Homo sapiens: one gene and its partner. The protein of the gene in region 1 interacts with the protein of each later gene in a biochemical or structural test. Each region holds a gene or a part of one and is shown on either strand. Other genes may lie near its edges. The genes, in order: TNFRSF8 and TNFSF8.

Region 1 (10,168 bases):
TGCTCAAGAAACGAGTCTAAGTCAGATATGAGTGGGAGCAGAAGCAGAAACTTACAGTAAACGCCCCTCCTTCCGGCACTCACTGCTCTCAAGCTGAGTAACACGACTCCCTGACCCCAGAGCACTAGTGCCGCCCTGGGAAGGGATGGCTTTAAGACAAGCCAGACCCTCCTTCCACTCCTTCAGGGTCCCCTCCTCTCCAGGTCCCCCCCCCGCCCCCCCGCCGTCCTTGCCTCCCTGCAGGATTTGAGCAGCCCTGGAAATGTCCCTTTTGCAAAACAAAACCAGAAAATCTCTCCTGCCCTCTTGCCACTCCCTGAAATTCCACGATTAGCACTACACTGTATGGAGTAACTAGCTAAGCTTTTAAAGTTAAATTGCTAGATGGAGGAGTCACACATAGAGCTTTTCTATCACCCCAGCTAAAATTCCTCTTTTTTTTTTTAAATACAGTCTCACTGCCACCCAGGCGGGAGTGCTGGCTCACTGCAACCTCCGCCTTCTGGTTTCAAGCGATTCTCCTGCCTCAGCCTCCTGAGTAGCTGGGATTACAGGCGCCTGCCACCATGCCCAGCTAATTTTTGTATTTTTAGTAGAGACAGGGTCTCACCACGTTGACCAGGCTGGTCTTGAACTCCTGGCCTCAAGTAATCTGCCTGTCTTGGCCTCCCAAAGTGCTGGGATTACAGGTGTGAGCCACAGCGCCCGGCCCCAGCTAAGATACTTTCATGAGAACCTTCCTGGTCCCAGCCTGCACACTAACCCAGAGCAAAGATGCTTACATCTGGCTGGAATTGGGGGTACATGGATGTGGGAGGAAGGCTTGTTTAGCCTTAGCACTGGCAAGGAACATGATGTTGGGGAATTTCTAAGTCTACAGAGTTCACAGGAAAGCTGGGGCTTCCCCCGCCCCGCAACCCCACCACATGGTGCCTGGATGAAAAGGATGGAGCTATGGGGGAATAAATTTTTCTCTGCAGATATGCACCAGTTAATCCTGGGTCATATTACAAAAAAACACAATTGGACAAGACAGTGATACGAAGCATCAGAGGCCAACTCTCAGATGGTGCCAGCTAGCAAGAAAGCATTCCTGCCTCAGAATACCAGGCGAAAAATGATGGCGTCTTGGGAAAAATCAAATAGAGATGAAAAAAGAACTTCAGGATGGGCACGGTGGCTCACGCCTGTAATCCCAGCACTTTGGGATGCCGAGGTGGGAGGATCACTTGAGGCCAGGAGCTCGAGACCAGCCTGACCAACATGACGAAACCCCATCTCTACTAAAAATACAAAAATTAGCTGGGTGAGGTGGCAGGCACCTATAATCCCAGCTATTCAGGAGGCTGAGGCAGGAGAATCACTTGAACCCAGGAGGCAGAGGTTGCAGTGAGCTGAGATTGCGCCACTGCACTCCAGCCTGGGAGACAAAGTGAGACTGTCCCAAAAAATAAAAAAAAATTTAGGCCGGGGGCGGTGGCTCACGCCTGTAATCCCAGCACTTTGGGATGCCGAGGTGGATGGATCTCCTGAGGTCAGGAGTTCAAGACCAGCCTGGCCAACATTATGAAACCCCATCTCTACTAAAATACAAAAATTAGCCAGGCATGATGGCAAGTGCCTGTAATCCAAGCTACTAGGGAGGCTGAGACGGTAGAATCACTTGAACCTGGGAGAGGGTGGTTGCAGTGAGCCAAGATCGTGCCACTGCACTCCAGCCTGGGCAGCTGAGGGAGACTTCATCTCAAAAAAAAAAAAAAAAATTTTAAACTCAAGGAAATTCAAGCCCTAATTTGGGATTTTTTTTTTAAAATAACGAGCTTCCCGAACCTTTACTGGAAAAAACAGAAGTGGGAGAAGGCTTGAGGGGCAAAAAGGAGTACTGTGTTGGGCAGGTAGTCCCTTCCCCAAGGACTCCCTGACTCCTGCCAAGAAATGACCTAGTGCCTGAGCCCAGAGAGATGCTCAGCTTCCCCGGTAGGCGAGAAATGCAAATTAAGGCAACAAGGATATAACCCTTTTCACTAATCACATTGAGAAAAATTAAAATGCTGATAAGATCAAATGTCGGTTAGGATGTGGGAAAGTTACTACTCTCTTGCACTGCTAGCGGGAGGGTAAATTGTCCAGCCACCCTGGAAGGCAGTTCGGTGGTGTCTTTTAATTTGAATGCATTTTCGCCCTGCAACCTCAGTATTCTCTTCTCAGTCTCTTGTCTAGGAAAGAATCACAGACATTTATTTCCAAAAGCATCCATATAGGGCTGTGCACTGTAGTAGAGAACAAAGAAAGAAAGAAAGAACAATGGTGGCAACCTTAGCACCCATCCATCCAGGACATAAATAAACTATGAAACATCCCATTTGGCAAAAGATCACATAGCATTTTAAAAGATAGGCAGAGGATCTGTAAGTTTCAGCATGGAAAGCTCACCAAGATGCCTCATAGACATTATAAAGCCAAATGAAGAACCATATGTACTGTAGGGTATAGTATATGGAAAACTATATATATGTCTATTAAAACAATATAAATATGGACATGCATTTATAAAGGTCTGCAAAGGAAACACACCAAATCAATTATGGTGGTTATATCTTTGAAGGGATCAGGATGAGGCGGTGTCAAAAGACTTGGCTTTATCTGTAGCGTTTACAGTTTTGCTTTGAGAATATATTTATATATTCCTTGTGCAATTAAATATATAGTATTTTTATTTTAAAAAGGGTATGGGAGGCTGGGTGTGGTGGCTCATGCCTGTAACCCTAGCACTTTGGGAGGCCGAGACGGAAGGATCACTTGAGGTCAGGAGTTCGAGACCAGACTGACCAACATGGTGAAACCTCATCTTTACTAAAAATACAAAAATTAGCCGGGTGTGGTGGCACATGCCTGTAATCCCAGCTACCTGGGAGGCTGAGGCAGGAGAATCACTTGAATCCGGGAGGCAGAGGTTGCAGTGAGCCGAGATCGAGCATTGCACTCCAGCATGGGCAACAAGAGTGAGACTCAGTCTCAAAAAAAAAAAAAAAAAAAAAAGGTTTGGTATGAGAGTTCAGGCTGTAGTGAGTTATGATCGCACTCCAGCCTGGACAACAGAGTGAGACCCTGTCTCTAACATTAAAAAAAGTGGAGGGGGCTTCACTCTACAGAAAGGAAGCACATGAGCTTCAGCTGCCAAACCAAACCAGCAAAGCCCCCCAAGCACCTCTCACATCTCTTCCTTCCCTTCATCTCCCCAAGACCTTGGCACTCCAAACTCTTACCTTCCCCCAGGTGAGGGCTTGCAGAGCTGGGACAGGGTGTCTCTAGCCAGGGCTTTGTCCCCTCTGCCCTCTTGGGGGGAAAGGGGGAATACCTCACATTGCCCATTGGAAATGGAAGAGGGCATAGTTCCTCCTTTGCTGCATAGTTCCTCCCTCCTGCCTAAAGCCCACTCTGCCACTCTCCTCCCACTGCCTAAGGTTCAGATGACTAGAATTGATCCATAGCATGGAGTCCTCTCTTCCTGTAGGATTAAAGGGGAACTGGGTCTTCCCTCTCCCCCACCGTGACCCACCGCTGGACTAACAGCCTGCTCCTTCCTTTCCCTCTGTATCATTCAGCAGGCATCCACTCGCACCTACTATGGTTCTATGCAGGGGTCCACCGGGGTCCTGGGTCAGCTGAGGGCCTCTCTCTCCAGCAGCCCCTGGGCTCCGTGAAACACGCCTGGTTACTTTGCATTCTCCCCACAGTGATTAATTTGGCGCTGGCCACTGGTAAGTGCTCAGTTTTCCTAAAGCAGTCCCCAAACTCAATTCTGAGGCAACCCACCATAGACTTCAGCCCCACCACTGACCTTCTTCCAGGGGCAAATGCCCACCACGTGCTCCAGCGAATTCAATCCACAGCGTTGCTTTGCCGGACGCGGATTGGGGAAGCTAATCCCGGTGGTCCTGCACCCTCACCCCACTCTCACCCACAGCCAACTCTCCCTCCTTTCCTTGACCCTCCAGCCAGTGGCCAGCTTAGGAAGGGGGCAAACGGGACCGCGCACACAACAGGGTAGAGCGCGGACGACCAACCTCCCATGGCTAAGGGAGGCCCCATCTGGCCTGCCCACTACTCCCACGGCCTCACCTGATCTGCCCAGGACCCCGACGGGCCCGCAGGTAGGCGGGCTAAAGAGCGCCTCCCGCGTATGGCAGTGCTCTCAGTCCAATTCACACTGAATGAATGAATCAGTCCCAGCCATCGCGGGGTGAGAAGGAGGCGCCCCCCACCACTAGCCCTTCAGCCAGCCTCCCACCTGTGGGTGCTAGCATATTCCGGTGTTCCTGCTTGTCACCCGCGCCCCCTCACTCCAGCTGGGCAGGGAACGGGGTGAGGAGTGTCCTCCCTTGCGTCCCACGCACCCCACACTGTCCGGGCTCTGGACCGCCGGCACCTCCCCAGGCGCCCGTCACCCGCTTACCTGTGGGAAGGCTCGTAGCGCCCCCAGGAACAGCAGTCCCAGCGCGGCGAGGAGGACGCGCATCCCCGGGGCCGGACGTGAGGTGGCCTGGCGGCCGGCGCCCACCTGGGAAGCGGGGGAAGCGCGCGGCGCCCACGTGCGGTCCCGGCGGTTCTCAGCCGCGCGCGTGGACTTCAGGCTCCAGCACACTCCCGCCGCGGCCACCTAGTCCGCACCCAACGCACGCCGCGAAGTCACTTCAAAAGTGGTTGTTCCTCCGAGGTTTCAGCCTTAGTTCTCCCGTATCAAATTGGTTCCAGGAACACTTAGCTACAAGCAGCGAAGAAAAAAGGGGGCAAACACGTGCAGAGATGACTCAGGAAAAGGCACACTAGGAGACGCCTCCCTTAGCTGTTTGAATGGCCCGCCCCGGATTTGACGGAACTAGTGGTCCTGGCTCTAGGGAGTGTGCTGCCCGCCGCACCTGGGCTGCGGGGAGCGGAGGCAGGCAGCTTCTGGCCCTGGAGGTGGGGACTCACAGGATATTAGGAGGCCCCAAGGGGGTTCCAATGCCCCCACCTCCACTCCTGCCCCAAGAAACGGTGAAATGTGAGTAGTTTCCTGTCCCTGACACGATCAGCCAGGACCTTCTCCCATGCCCTTGAGATTCTTTGGAAGGGACAACTGGCCTAGGGAGACTGCAGAAAAAGCAACCATCACCCACCCATCCCCATTCATAAGCATTTGCTGTAAAATGAATCAGTGAGTGGATGATAAATTGGTGGATGGATGGATGGATGGATGGATGCATAGGTGGATGGATGGATGGATGGATGGATGGATGGATGGATGGATGGATGCATAAGTGGATGGATGGATGGATGGATGGATGGATGGATGGATGGATGGATGCATAGGTGGATGGATGGATGGATGGATGGATGGATGGATGGATGGATGGATGCATAAGTGGATGGATGGATGGATGGATGGATGGATGCATAAGTGGATGGATGGATGGATGGATGGATGGGTGAGCAGCAGGTGAGTGGGTAAATGGGTGGGTGGATGGGTGGATGGATGGATGCATAGATGGATGGATGGATGGATGCATAGGTGGATGGATGGATGGATGGATGGATGGATGGATGCATAAGTGGATGGATGGATGGATGGATGGATGGATGGATGGATGGATGGATGGATGCATAGGTGGATGGATGGATGGATGGATGGATGGATGGATGGATGGATGCATAAGTGGATGGATGGATGCATAAGTGGATGGATGGATGGATGGATGGATGGATGGATGGATGGATGGGTGAGCAGCAGGTGAGTGGGTAAATGGGTGGGTGGATGGGTGGATGGATGGATGCATAGATGGATGGATGGATGGATGCATAGGTGGATGGATGGATGGATGGATGAGCAGCAGGTGAGTGGGTAAATGGGTGGGTGGATTGGTAGATGGATGGACTGAATGTTGGAGGAACTGATGGATGGTATAGATCATTTTATTTCCCTGAGGCCTGACCCTTTAGAGTTTTCTTCCTGGAGGAGGCGGCTGGCACTCTCTCCTAACAGAAATGATTCAAGCCTCCTCGTACTATGTTCTCATTTGCTGGTGAATGATTTTCCCTTCCAGTGCTTCCCCATCCCCTGGGTTTTCTCTTTGCTCCTTTTATTCCACATTCCGTGTGTCTGTGTTGAGCATCTGCTGGGTGGGCCACAGGTCAAGGGTTCTTTTGACTGATTTTGTTTGGTTTTCAGATGTGAAAGCCAAGGCTCAGAAATAGGCAGGCAGTCCTAGGTGCTCTAATTAAGGGTGGGCCAGTTATTTTCCCTGAGCCCAGAATAGCCTAAGGATACTCTGGCTTCTGTGTCTACCTTGATCTGTCCTGCGAGGTACCAGGCCTCCATCAGGTGAAGGCCCTATAGGGTAGGAGTGATAACCTCCCACCAGGAACTTCCCAGCAAGGTCTCCACAACTGACCACTCCATGCTCAACCCTCCTGGGGCTGCTGGACTCCACTTGGGAAAACTGCTCCATCATGCCCCTTCCCAAGAGACCCACTTCCAGACTCTCCTCTGGATGTACCAGGCCCAGTATCTTAGGCTGTTTGAGCTGGGACTATGTTAAACAATGAGGTAAGCAATTATGGAAGTGACCTGCCTGTGATAATGACAGAACCAGACAGGGACAGGAGGAACGCAAGACACCTGCTTCCCAGTCCAGAGCTTTCTACTACAAAAGTAGAAAAGCTGGCAGCTGGGTGACATGGCTCATATCTGTAATCCCAACACTTTGGGAGGCCGAGGTTGGAGGATCACTTGAGCCCAGTTTGAGACCAGCCCGGGTAACGTAGCAAGACCTCATCTCTATTTTTTGTTTAATTAAAAAAGAGAGAGAGAGAAGGGCTGGTGTTTTGAATAAATAAATGAACAACAGCATCAAAATAGCTTGCACAAGGAGAAATACAAATAAAAATCAATTACAAGTTTTATAAGTTTAACCTTTTTAGTAATTAAAGAAATGCAAATTCAAGCAACCTTTGATAACCTTTTAGATCTATACAATCATCATTTTTTTTTTTTTGCTTTATAAAAACAATTTTGGTAAATCCAACCCCAAAGTTGTGGTGAGACCAGAATACTCATTCATACTCTGCTGGTAAATGTTACAACCCTTTTCAGAAAGCAGTATGGCAATTTTTAGCAAAAGCCAAAAAAAAAAAAAAATGTGTACTACTTGTGAGTGGCTCAGTAATTTCACCTCAGTGAAGAAAAACTAAGGAAATAATTTAACTGGAAAACTAGAAAAAGAAAAAAGAAAACTATACAGTAACATTTCCTTATATATTATTTATAAATTTTTGAAATACTCTGAGATTCACAACAAGAAATGATTACGGAAATTGTGGTACATCCATTTAATGGAATATTGCACATCCATTAAAAAGGATAAATCTATAGATGTTGTGGAAACTTGTCTCTCCCTCATATCCTTCCCTCCATGGATTTCCAAAGAGACCTTTCTAGCACACACATCTCACCAAGACACTCCCCTGTAGAGAACCCTTGCGGAAGTATGGTGTGTGTTTTGGCAGAGGACCACGTAGAAAATTATATTATTCATTTAATGATAACAATAACAGCTACCTTTGAGTGCTTATTTTGTGCTAAGAGTTTTCAGGCATTGGTTTCTTGTATCCTCATGAAAACCCCATGAACAAGGTCCTACTTTTATGCCCATTCTGCAGGAAAGGAACCCCTGCAGTGGCTCCCCTGGGTCAGAGTCACCCAAATGCAAGGGTGCACAAGTCTGCTCACAGCCTGGCAGGGGCTGACTCCTCCCTTGTGCCTTTTTACTTCTCCTGGACCTATACTCCAGCCAAATGTGCAGCCTTCTCACCCCTGCCAGCCTTTGCCCACGCTGGCCTCCACCTGGGACGCACACAGACTCCTGATCATCTTCCTAACCTGTTCCAATGCCACCTCCTCCTTGTTGCTTTCCTGGCAGTGTCTCCTGTCCCCCAGCCCTCTTCCCAGTCAAAAAGTGGTTTCTGTCATTTTTTGTGCCGCAATTCTAGATCTGATCTCATCATGTCATAACCATAATGACTGGTTCATGCATCCCTCTGCCCCAGGAAACTGTGTACTCCTGAGAACCAGAATTCCCCCAGGGCGCCCAGGAAAGTAGCTGACACATGGCTTAAGTGGAGGGAAGGCACATTTTGTGGCCAGGGAGCCAGCTGGATCCCAGGGGGAGATGGGCTGGTAGCAACCAAGGAAAACAGCCATTCATGGGACTCTTAAAAGCAGGCAGTGGATAGAGCCCCCGGGTGCCCTCGGCAGGTTTCAGGTGGTATGAAAGTGCTGTGAAGAGTAGAAGGGGAAGTCCCTAGGCTCTGTGCAAGGCACAGCAGCAGTCCTTGTTGTGGGGTCGTGGGGCCCTCCAGAGCAAGCTGTGGAAGGAAGCCAAGCCCGAGGGGCTACAGGAGACTGGGGAGCGAGGAGCGCTTGCTCACACAGTCTCAGCTCGGTGGGCTTCTTGGAGGAAAGGTGAGGAAGGTGAATGCAGTAGGAAGCCATCCAAGGGGAATTGGGAATCTGTGTCCCCAAAGTGATGCTGAGCAAGACACAAGGTCCCAACTTGGTTCAGGAAATTCAGGGACTTCCTCCAACAGCTGGGAACCCGAGTCCCAAATGGCCCCAAAATACCCTTAGCAGATAAAGGGTTCTTTCTGGCCCAGGCAGCAGCTGGCAGGTAGGAGGCTGGAAATCAGAGAGGGGAGGCTGGGGCCTTTCTTCTTCAATAGGTCCAGGTGCACCTTTTCTTTCTTTCTTTTTTTTTTTTTTTGAGATGGAGTCTCACTCTGTTGCCCAGGCTGGAGAGCAGTGGTGCAATCTCGGCTCACTACAACCTCCCCCTCCCCAGGTTCAAGCGATTCTCATGCTTAGCCTCCCGAGTAGCTGGGATTACAGGCGAGCATCACTGCACTCAGCTGATTTTTGTATTTTTAGTAGAGACAGGGTTTCACCATGTTGGCCAGACTGGTCTTGAACTCCTGACCTCAAGTGATCTGCATGCCTTGGTCTCCCAAAGTGCTGGGATTACAGGCAAGAGCCACCGCGCCCAGCCGCAGGTGCACCTTTTCTGAGCAACTTTCTTGGGAGCCTTGGTAGCAGTAGGACTCTCCATTAGGCTTCTCTGGGTCACCCTTGGCCTCCACCAGTCCTAATCGGCAGGACCCATGTCAGGCTCCCTCCAACTCACATCCCCAGATCTCCCTGCCCTTTTGAGGCACCAACATTAGGGGTTCTCAGCTGCCTGGGTGAACCCCAGCAATGCACACCCACAAGCATGACACCCCTAGACCAAGCCTGGTTGGAAACTAAGCAAAGGGGCACTGGCTCTCCAGAACTAGGTTTGTTGTGCCCCTTCCCATGGGCAGGAGGGAAGGCTGTGAGGCCCTCGGGGATGCTCTTAAAGATTCTGCATAGTAACATTAACAGTGTCATTCATTGAGCTCCTGCTGTGTACCAGGCCCTTGGTCAGACATTTAATCCTGGCATCAAGATTTCAAGTCAGTATTGCTATCCCCACTTTATAAATGAACTGAGGCTCAGAGTAGTTAAGTCACTTGCCTGAGGTCACACAGCATGAGGGTGGCAGGGCTAGGATTTACTCCAACCCTGTCTGACTCTGAAGCCTCAGCTGCCTTCTTTTCCCTCCCCAGGCCTCTCTCACCCTTGCTTTCCCCAGGAGAAAGAGCACTGATGTATAAGTCCTGGTCTGGCCATGTGACTTTGGGAAGTCATTTCTCCTCTCTGAATGTATTATTATCTATTGCTATGTGCCTCAGAACCTAGTGGCTGAAAACAATAAACATTATATTGCGCTGTTTCTGTGAGTCAGCAATTTGGGAGAGACTTGACAGGGTGATGCTGGCTCAGGGATTGCCATCAAGATGTGGGCCAGGGCGGCAGTCATCTGAAGGCTTGAGTGGGGCTGGAGCATCTGCTTCCAGGATTAGCCACTCCCACGGCTGTGGGTAGGAGGCTTCAGTCCCATGGGGCTGCTTGAGTGTCCCCACAACATGGCGCTGGCTTCCTCCAGAGCAAGTGACCCCAAGTGAGCAAGACAGAAGTCACAATGCTTTTTATGAACTAGCTTCAGAAGTCACATTTTGTCATTTCCACAGTATTCTGTTGGTTATACAGGCTGGC
Region 2 (9,801 bases), on another chromosome or scaffold:
CTAAGTTTCACACCCTGATTGTCCCTCCCCTTTCTCTCCAGCCATGGAGACACCCATACAATATTCTGCCAATAAGGAATGAAGTATTTTATTCATCTTTTGACCTGCCCAGGTTGGAATCTCCTGTATTGCATTGAATTAAAATATTAGTAAAGACCTAGAGAGGTGTGAGCGTGTGTATGCGAAAAAACCAACTTCCTAACCTCTACCAAAGCAAGAAATTAGCAGCCGCCCACAGCTTATTTTCTTAGTGTTCTGTATGAACACTAGGACCATCTGGAGTTCCCCTATTATTGTAACATTTCCCTGGGAGGTCTGTCATTTGCCTTCCGCTGAAAGCTTGTTTTCTTATGAATGGATCTCTTCTCTAGTGCAAGAGGTTGGTAGTGAGTCAAGGAGGTCTCCTGAAGGCAAAGCCCTGGCACAGCACCAATCTGGAGATGGGGGAAGTCAGCTTAAACATTTGGGCCCTACCTTCTCAGGGGAAGGGAGGCAAACTTGTCCTGGAAGGCCCTTCCTACTGTAACAGTCTACGACTTTGTTGCCTTAGTTGAAAGCTTTTAACCTAACAAAGCTAAGTTTTTGTAGTCTTTCAGTTATGCATGCAGTTTGCAGGAAAACTTGATATCACAAAATTCCCCTTTATGTTGCCCTTGTGAGACAACACACAACATTTTAAAATTTAATAAACAACTTACAACTTACTGCCAAGCGTGACCATTGATTAGCATGATGTGCAAATGCACTAAGAAAAATATCTGCATTGAAATGTCTTACCACAATCATCAAATTCATCAAGCTGCCCAGGGACATATACAGGGACAGTGAGAGAGGCTAGAATAGCAAACCTGGTACAGCCATCATTGCAGAGGCTGCTAGCAGTTCGGGAAGTCCTAGAGAATCATTCATGCAGCACACCTTGAATGAGCACCTGGTCTGTGGTAGGAACTACGTTAGTCACTAAAAGACATCCTATGGATTTTATGCTTTAGTCATTAAGGCAGCCATTTAAAAAATATAAATAAATGTGTAATTAGAATTGCAGGTTGTGGCAAGAGCTATGGAGGAAAAGAATCATAGTGCTTTAAGGTAGTGCTGTTAGAACTTCAATGTGCATATGAATCACCTGGGAGTCTCGTTAAAATGCAAATTCTGATTCTGCAGATTTGGGGGGAGTTTAACATTCTGCATTTTTTTCTTTTTGAGATGGAGCCTCACTCTGTCACCCAGGCTGGAGTGCAGTGGCGCAATCTCGGCTCACTGTAGCCTCCATCTCCTGGATTCGAGCAATTCCTCTACCTCAGCCTCCCCAGTAGCTGGGACTACAGGGGCCCACCACCACCCCCGGCTAATTTTTGTATTTTTAGTAGAGACGGGATTTCGCCATGTTGACCAGGCTGGTCTTGAACTCCTGACCTCTTGTGATCTGCCCGCCTGGGCCTCCCAAAGTGCTGGGATTACAAGCGTGAGCCACCGCACCTGGCCAACATTCTGTATTTCTGGCAGCTTTCGAGTAATACTGACACTCCTGGCCCACAGAACACTTTGAATAGCACAGCTGTGAGAAGTAATATCAGAGAGGAGGACCTAATTTATATGGGGGTCAAGGAAAGCCTCTTTTCTCTCTGTCACTTGAATGCATTCTGGTTTCCTAATTTCAGACATGGGATGTCAAAAGCAGAGCATCTCAAACAGGAAAGAAACCTGTCATTTAAACCTTCACCCAGGGCCCAGGAAGTCCATGACAGAAGCGTGACTATTCCTATTTTGAAGAGCTCTTGGGATGAGGTCTTTACAGCTTCTCCTAGCTACCCATGGTAGTCAAGATTAGACAATCAAAGCCAGAGGGAGATTGAGACATCTTTCAGTCCATCAAGCTAATTTTATGGAGGAGGAAACCAAGGCACTCATGAGTCAGAGGCAGATCTTGGACTGAAATTCTCTGGTGTACTTTCCACTGCCCTAGGAGAGATGCTGTTTCCAGAAACAAAGGATAGAAGAGCTCATTCCTCCCTCCTCCCCTCTCCCATAAGCAGTCCCTGCATTTGGAGGTGGAGAAGCAATGTCTAAGGAGATGATGGCTGTTGAAATTCAGTGAAGACTGTTCATAAACAGGTATTACACTAAGTGTTGTTCACCAACTCCTCTTTGGCAAGATGTCCCCCAGTCCTAGAATTCTCTCCCTAATCTTGTCTGGGGATCTGGGTCCTAGCTCAGGAAATGTGAACTATCTTGCTCAATGACTTGGCTTTGTGTAAGGTAGTGCCTAGGCTGAATGCAGGCACAAACAAATGGACTCTCCCAGGTTTTCATTCTCAGCTCCACTGAGTAGCTCAGGAAACTTTGTCTCCGTGGTTATCAACGAGGTATACTTCCTTAAGTGTACTTCCTCTGTTTTTGGCCTCTGTAGATGTCTGATGAGTATTCCCAACAGTAATAAAGTTATTTTCATGTATGGAGGGAGGAATGGTCATGTTTAACCTGTTTGTCTCCAGGTAAAATGACCCCCATCCCAACCATCTTCCTTGCCTTGGAGTGTTTTCTTCTCCTTTAATCAGTGGTTAGATGGCTAATCATCCATCTTTCCACTGGGTTATTGTGGACATCATAAGATATTATAAAGTGTTAGCAAGTATTTGAAAAGCATAGCTATTTTGAGCACTGCCTTGGTGTTAATGATGTGCTTAATTTGCCTCAATACCTTGAAAGGCTTGTTTCTTTTCACAGAGGAATGATCAGCAGATGCAATGAGCTCCTGAATTTGCTTTGGACACAAAATGCCCCCGTGGACCAAAAATGATCAAAGGCAGCTCTGTTTGGAATATGCCAGGGGAAGTCCACATTCCTTTCCTTGTTGCCCTCACATAGTCTTGTAAGGTGGGCTCTGGCTCATGGCCCAAAGGGACTTTTGCCAAGGATACCTCTTATTTTCAAGCTAATTCATTGGGCACTTAATGAGGGTTACTCTACATGCACTATTTCATTTGGCCTTTAACTTGACCCCAAGAGTTACGGATTCATCAAGACTTAGAGAAGTGATTTCATAATGTGATAATGTTTATAGAAGGTCCCACAGGTGGCGAATAGCACAGAAGGGATTCAAACTTAGGTGTTTGACTTTGAAGGCACTGCTCTTCAATGTCCTGCTACATTGCCTCTCTAGATGAGGGCAGGATAAAGCTGAGCAGAAAAATCTCCTGAAATTTCATGGAAAAGTGAATAGAAGTCATAGAAAATCCTCAGGGGAAGACTATTTTTACTGGGAGCACATGGTCTGCCAAAGTGAGAAGTGGACCACAGTGGCTTAAAGCAGTGCTTCTCCCACTTTAAAAGACTGACCAGCATCGGGGGATTTTGGTAAAAGCAGATTCTGACTCAGTAGGGAGGGGCCCTTAGGTTTTGCATTTTTGATGAGCATCCAGGTGATGCCAATGTTGCCAGGCCATGGACCACACCTTGAGTAGCAAAGTCTTAAATACACTACTCAGTAGGCAATCAGAACACCTGAGGTCTTGAGAGATGGCTGTAGGAGGCTGAGTATAGATTTGGGCTCAGATATGGGCTTAGGAAATCTTTCTAGTTTGAAGATGGCAGTGATATCCTGTCCTCTCCGTCTCTTCTATCAAATCTTTTTATCATCTAGTTCCGTTTCTTCTCCTCTGTACAATCTGGACTGACTTCTGGCCCTACCATTCCTCTCCTCACACCTGGGCTTGCCTTCTTATGGGCTGTGCCACTGCTTTCTCTTTTGCCTCACCTGGAATATCCTGCTCCTCCTCCTCCTGCCACCATCTTTCCAATGGGGAGCTCTTCTCTACAGAAGAATGACAGCTAATAAATTTGGAAGGAGTGACAGACTTAGGCATTCCCTCTTTTTCAACCCTCAGTGCATTAGCTGATTCAGACAAGGATCATTAAGAAATGGCAAAACCACCAAGTGAAGAGTATTTATGTCTTCAGAGTATTATCCCATACATAGATTACTTTTCTTTCTTTTTCTTTCTTTCTTTCTTTCTTTCTTTCTTTCTTTCTTTCTTTCTTTTTTTTTTTTTGAGATGAAATCTCACTCTGTCACTCAGGCTGGAGTGCAGTGGTGCCATCTCTGTTCACTGCAACCTTGGCCTCCTGGGTTCAAGAGATTCTCCTGCCTCAGCCTCCCTAGTAGCTGGGACTACAGGTGTGTGCCACCACATCCGGCTAATTTTAGTATTTTTTGTAGAGACAGGATTTCGCCATGTTGGCCAGCCTGGTCTTGAAATCCTGGCCTCAAGTGATCCACACACCTTTGCCTCCCAAAGTGTTGGGATTACAGGCATGAGCCACTGCTCCTGGCCAGATTACTTGTTAATGAGAAAGAAAAAATGTTTTACAAAGGCGATAGTTGGTGGTCACCGCTTTAATCAAGTGACTAAACCTATAGTCAAAAAAAATGGGACAACCTGACATATGTCTCTAGCTGTGCTACAATAAGACGTATATAGAATTACCTATATACTATTCTTACTAAAAATGTTTCATCTGAGTATAACCATGAGTTAATACTAAGACAAATCCAGGCTATGAATGGATTTCTACAACAGAATTGGCCTGGACCCTTTAAAAAAAGGTCAATGTTATTTAAAACAAACACCAAAGGGCAAAGGAGATTTTAGCTCGGTGCTTCTCAAACTTTAATGTGCATACAGATCACCTGAGGAGCTTGTTAAAATGCAGATTCGGATTCAGGAGATCTGGGGTGAGCCCTGAGATTTTGAATTTCTAACAAGGCCCAGGACCACACTTTAAAAAGCAAAGTTCTAGATTAAAACAGATATTATCATAACACAGTATGTGACCCTAGATTGGTTCAAACAAACAAAAACACAACAGCCATACCTATAAGACATTTTTGAACAAGTAAAGAAATTAAAATATGGACCATATATTATTATTAGATGATATTATTGAATTAATATTAACTCTCTTGGCAATGATAATGGCATTGCAGTTAGTTAAGAGATGGGTACTGAAGTACATGTGAGTGAAAGGTCATGCTGCCTCCAGCTTACTTTCATATCCTTATATAGAGAGAGCAAAAATACAGCAAGATATTGACACAGCAATCTAGGTGCCAAGGTTATATTAGCATTTGCCATTCCACTTTTCTGTAGGTTTGAACATTTTCAAAATAAGACTTTGGGAATAAGCCATGACTGTTGTAATTCTTGGAAGCCTGGCTTTTGTTCTAGCTCTTCTACAAACTCCTCCTTCATCCCAAGCAGAAATGACTTCTCCTTTGCTCTGTGGCATTCTGTGCCATTCTGCCCGGAACCCAAGAACTTGGTGTTTGGGCTTCATCTGCTCAATTTAACAGAGTTCCCAGAAGACAGGGTCTTGCCCCTTCCACTGGGGACCTCCCCACATAACCTCACACAGGGCTCGCTCCTGGGAAGATTTACAGTGGATTTTTCTGGATTGCTAAATGGAATGAATGTCAGGTGGAGGGAGTACCTTGGGTAGTGGGAAGTGTCATGGGGCATTCCAAATAACTTCTTCTTGTGCCGAACTCCTATTAGCTCAACAGGGAAGGCACCATGTTCAAGAGGCTAAAGAAGAGGTGTAGAGTCAGCAAACAAGATGTGGGGTTTTATTGGGGGCTTACATACAGGGGAGAGAGTCCAGTGGCAGTGAGCTGAACAGGAAAACTGCTTTACGGACAGAAATGATCTCATGGCAGCAGGCTGGACAACATATTCACCTTATATACCGTCCAGTGGTGGTGGGTTGGGCAGGAAAACCACAACCACTTGCAAATAGCATGCAGTTTCTATAGCATGCTCACTTAACAGCCTCCCCTTAATGGCCTCCACCTGGCAGCCTTCATGTAACCAAAAACTCAGGCCTCAATCTCCTGTATGGCCCATGTTCCACGGGATGGGCTGGGGGCTCAGATGTTCCTCACAGACAAGGAATGAGTCTCCAGGTTGACCACTCCTGGACTCTCTAGCTTGGAACACCCATTCAGACGTGTCTGCCATATGTGGTTATTCTAAGGGTATGCTTCAGTTATTGCTATATCAGGTGTGTTTACCCTACACTTCTATTTTGTATCTGAGCTTAAAAATAAACCCAAAATACCACACCACCATCACCACCACCAATAATTACTCCCCTTAAACAGGTGCTCAGCTCCACTGTTGGTGTGGAGATAATTTAAAAAGAGTATTATTATTATTATTTTTAAAAAAAGAATTTTTTTTGCTTATAAAGGGAAAAGAGGCAGCTTCTTTCTTGAAAGCCTACCGATTGTGAACCCTATACTCCAACCTTTTGGAATGTAACCCTTTACATTCTCCCCTGGGGCTAGAGAAGCCCAGTCTCCTGGTTTACAAAACAAAGACGTCTCTAAGGTTGAGGGCTTCAGAGGCTTTTTGAAATGTAAACACCTACCTGTGGTGTTAACCTAGGAGTCTATCTCATTGTCTATCTCATTATGTATTCCCCTGTCTCTTGAGGAGATAAGAGAAGTTTTATTTTTTCTTCTTTTGCTTTGCTAGATTAATTGTGTGAAATTTCATCCTGACTTTGTAGTCTGTTGCAGGCTGCCTATTTGCATGTACAATTGTGCTTGCTCAACAGTAAATCATTTTTTTCTTTCCATATTGATGTAAAGAAGTGTCTGTTGGTAGGACTTTTAATTCCTCAGGGGTACACTAGTACAATCTCTTTGGAGACAGACTGACATTTATTGAAGCGAAAATGCACATTCCTCCTGGCTAACACGGTGAAACCCCGTCTCTACTAAAAATACAAAAAAATTAGCCAGGCGTGGTGGCGGGCACCTGTAGTTCCAGCTACTCGGGAGACTGAGGCAGGAGAATGGGGGGAATCCGGGAGGCGGAGCTTGCAGTGAGCAGAGATCGCGCCACTGCACTCCAGCCTGGGCGACAGAGCGAGACTGTCTCCAAAAAAAGAAAAAAAGAAAATGCACATTCCATTCCTATCACTAAAAATTTATTCCCCAGATATACTTGCAGACACGCACAGAGGGCACAAATTCTAGAGAAAACATTGATGTCTCTCACCAGGCACAGATAAATTATGAAGCATTTACACTTCGTACTATGCGACTCTTCAAAAGAATGAAATGAACTTCTATGTACTGACATGGAAGGATCTCTAAGATATACAGTGTGTTGTCAAGTGAATAAAGCAAGATGCAAAATTATGGGTTTATTATAATGACCCATGGGTTTATTATATATTATAATGTGTACTGTGTATTTGTAGATGCACAGATTTTTGGAAGGACACACAAGAATCTGTCAATGGTGGTTATCTCCGTGAAGAGGGATTAGTGGTTGGGTGGGGAAGGTGTGAAGATTTTTACTTTCTTTTCTCTTATTTGCTAGTTACTTTTCTTAAACCATGTAAGTATAGTATTTCCTAATATAAATATTATAAAATATATCAATATATTATAAAATATTAAATAACATAAAATATTATTTTATAATATAATATTTATAATATAAAATGTTTATTTTATAATATATTTATAACATAAAATGTTTATTTTATAATATATTTATAATATAAAATGTTTATTTTATAATATATTTATAATATAAAATGTTTATTTTATAATATAAAGTAATATTATTATATAAAATAGTATTTATTTTATAAATATGCTGGCTTAAATGTAAATAAAACAAAATACAACCACCACTGAGGCTTCAAAAATATCACAGGAAAGAAGTAAGTTCCATAGTAACTCAAAGACAGGGATTTTGTTGTTTTTTTTCAAGGCTTTAGAACAATGTCCTGCACACAGTAGATATTTAATAAATATTTGAGATAGAAACCTAAGTTCCTCCTTTGTCTCTCCCAAGGAGTTTAAGCTTGGAGTTATCTGATCTTCAAGTCAAACCTCAAGGCAAGCTTTGTTGATTTCCCTACACTTTCTCTGTCTTCTCTCCTCTGTCTCTTTGCTCATGCTGTTCCATTGGCTAGGAGTGCCTCTCCTCTGCTTTCCCTTCCCTGCCTGTTTGAAATTGTTCACATTTCTCAAGCCAACCTGAAACTAATCCCCAGGAGTTTTTCTTAAACCTGTCTGGAAAAATATATTCTCTCCTTAACTTGTGGTGTCATGGTATCCCTTTAATCACTCATTATATGTTATGACTTAGCTGTTTTAAATTTTGTCTATACACGTGCCTTGGGATAAGAATTGTGTGACTTCTTGTGCCAGTAAAACCATTCTTATGGTTCTCCACCCCTGTTCCCATCACATACAGAGTGCTAATTGACCATTAACTCATTCCATTTTTAATAATGGTGATGTGAGTCTAAGCTCCTTGGCTTTCTCCCATTGATTTCTTTCCTAGAGTTTCTTTTAGAGTCTCTTCACTTGTCTGAGTTCTTCCTGTTTTCAAGTCAGTCTACATTCCATCTTCCTATAGGAAACCCTTCCTGATAACTCAAGTTAATGGGAAAATGATGCTTTTTTTTTTCTTGTTAGGTCTTACAACAGTTAAGGTCTGAGGAATTTATTGAAAATGATATGTGCAATGCATTTGACACTTTATATACCACGGCTACTATTAACATGGCAAGCCTTAATTTTAAGGAAGCAACTGATATTTCCTGGTCTAAGAAATCACAGCACACCGCACTGTACAATCAGATTGCACAGTGAATCTTTTCATATCCAAACATGAGGGGTAAGTCAAGGAAGTGGATGCACAAGAAGATAAAGCTCCCAAGAGAAGAGTGGGTGCAATGTTTCTTAGTGCTTCTGTGGCTGTCTGTATTGGCAAAGGGGATGCTGCTTGCATCAAGCAATCAAGCAGTATTGGCTCTACCACTTTCTCAGGGTGACGTAGTTCAAGCCCTGTTCCCTCTCTGCTCCTCATTTTCCACATTTACAAAAATGAGGCAGAAAGATCTGCTCTGGTTCTTTTATAGAAGAAATCAATTCAACTAAAAGTTGGATATGAATGAGCTCTGAAGTTCTCTCTAGCTTTATATATCACCATCGCCACCCATTTTTCCACCATCTCTCTCTCTCTCTCAGCAGTTCTAGTTGGATCCTTTAACTAAAGAACTTCTTAAAGGACACTTCAATTTCTTTTCTTTGGCCATTGCTATAAAATGACATACCCTTGGTTCACTCCAAATTAGAATTACAGAAATTGCAGAGCCCCTGCAGAAGAAAAGATGTCCTAAAGTGTTTTCAAGATTATTATACTTAATAGATGTAGATAAGCCATTAAATTATGAGTTTTAAGAATTCCACTATCTAAATCAAATATTTGCAACTCCTTCTTTTCACTTTTGTAGAGATATGAGCTTCAAAGCTTCCATTTAATTTCAAAGCTTGATGACACTTGAGAAATAGATATCAAAGCCTTTTAAAGCCTAGTTCTTTCCAGCAATTGATAAGCTATAGAGTACTTGGCCTAAGAAAACTGAAGAAAAACCAGAATAAATTCAGCAGGATTATAATACCACGAAAAGTAGGCACTATGAAGTAAGAAACAGAAATATTCTCACTTTGGCAGGTCATGTGGGTGGGTGCAGCTCTTAAATTACCCATTAACAACTTCATCAAAAAATTCATGAGCAATATATGCTATTACTACAGCATTTTCTATATAATATATACTGGTAGATTCTCTGTAAACACCAATTTTCTAAAATATGAAGAAGCTTCCTCTTTCTCCTCCTCTTCTGTTTTCAGAAACAAATCTTACCATTTACTTCAAAGTAAATCTCCGAAGACAGTCTGACCCTGTACAGTGTGTACCCAACGATTGC

The links.
Region 2: the proteins of TNFRSF8 (region 1) and TNFSF8 form a complex in vitro, tested with the Homo sapiens proteins (2 studies listed by BioGRID and IntAct).

What each region holds. Positions count from the first base shown.
Region 1 is NC_000001.11:12,057,950-12,068,117, reverse strand, and holds the start of TNFRSF8 (tumor necrosis factor receptor superfamily member 8 isoform 1 precursor), read right to left. Parts: upstream 4,816-10,168; 5' UTR 4,520-4,815; coding exon 4,457-4,519; intron 1-4,456. UniProt on the Homo sapiens protein: Receptor for TNFSF8/CD30L. May play a role in the regulation of cellular growth and transformation of activated lymphoblasts. Regulates gene expression through activation of NF-kappa-B.
Region 2 is NC_000009.12:114,919,484-114,929,284, forward strand, and holds part of TNFSF8 (tumor necrosis factor ligand superfamily member 8), read right to left. Parts: intron 1-9,801.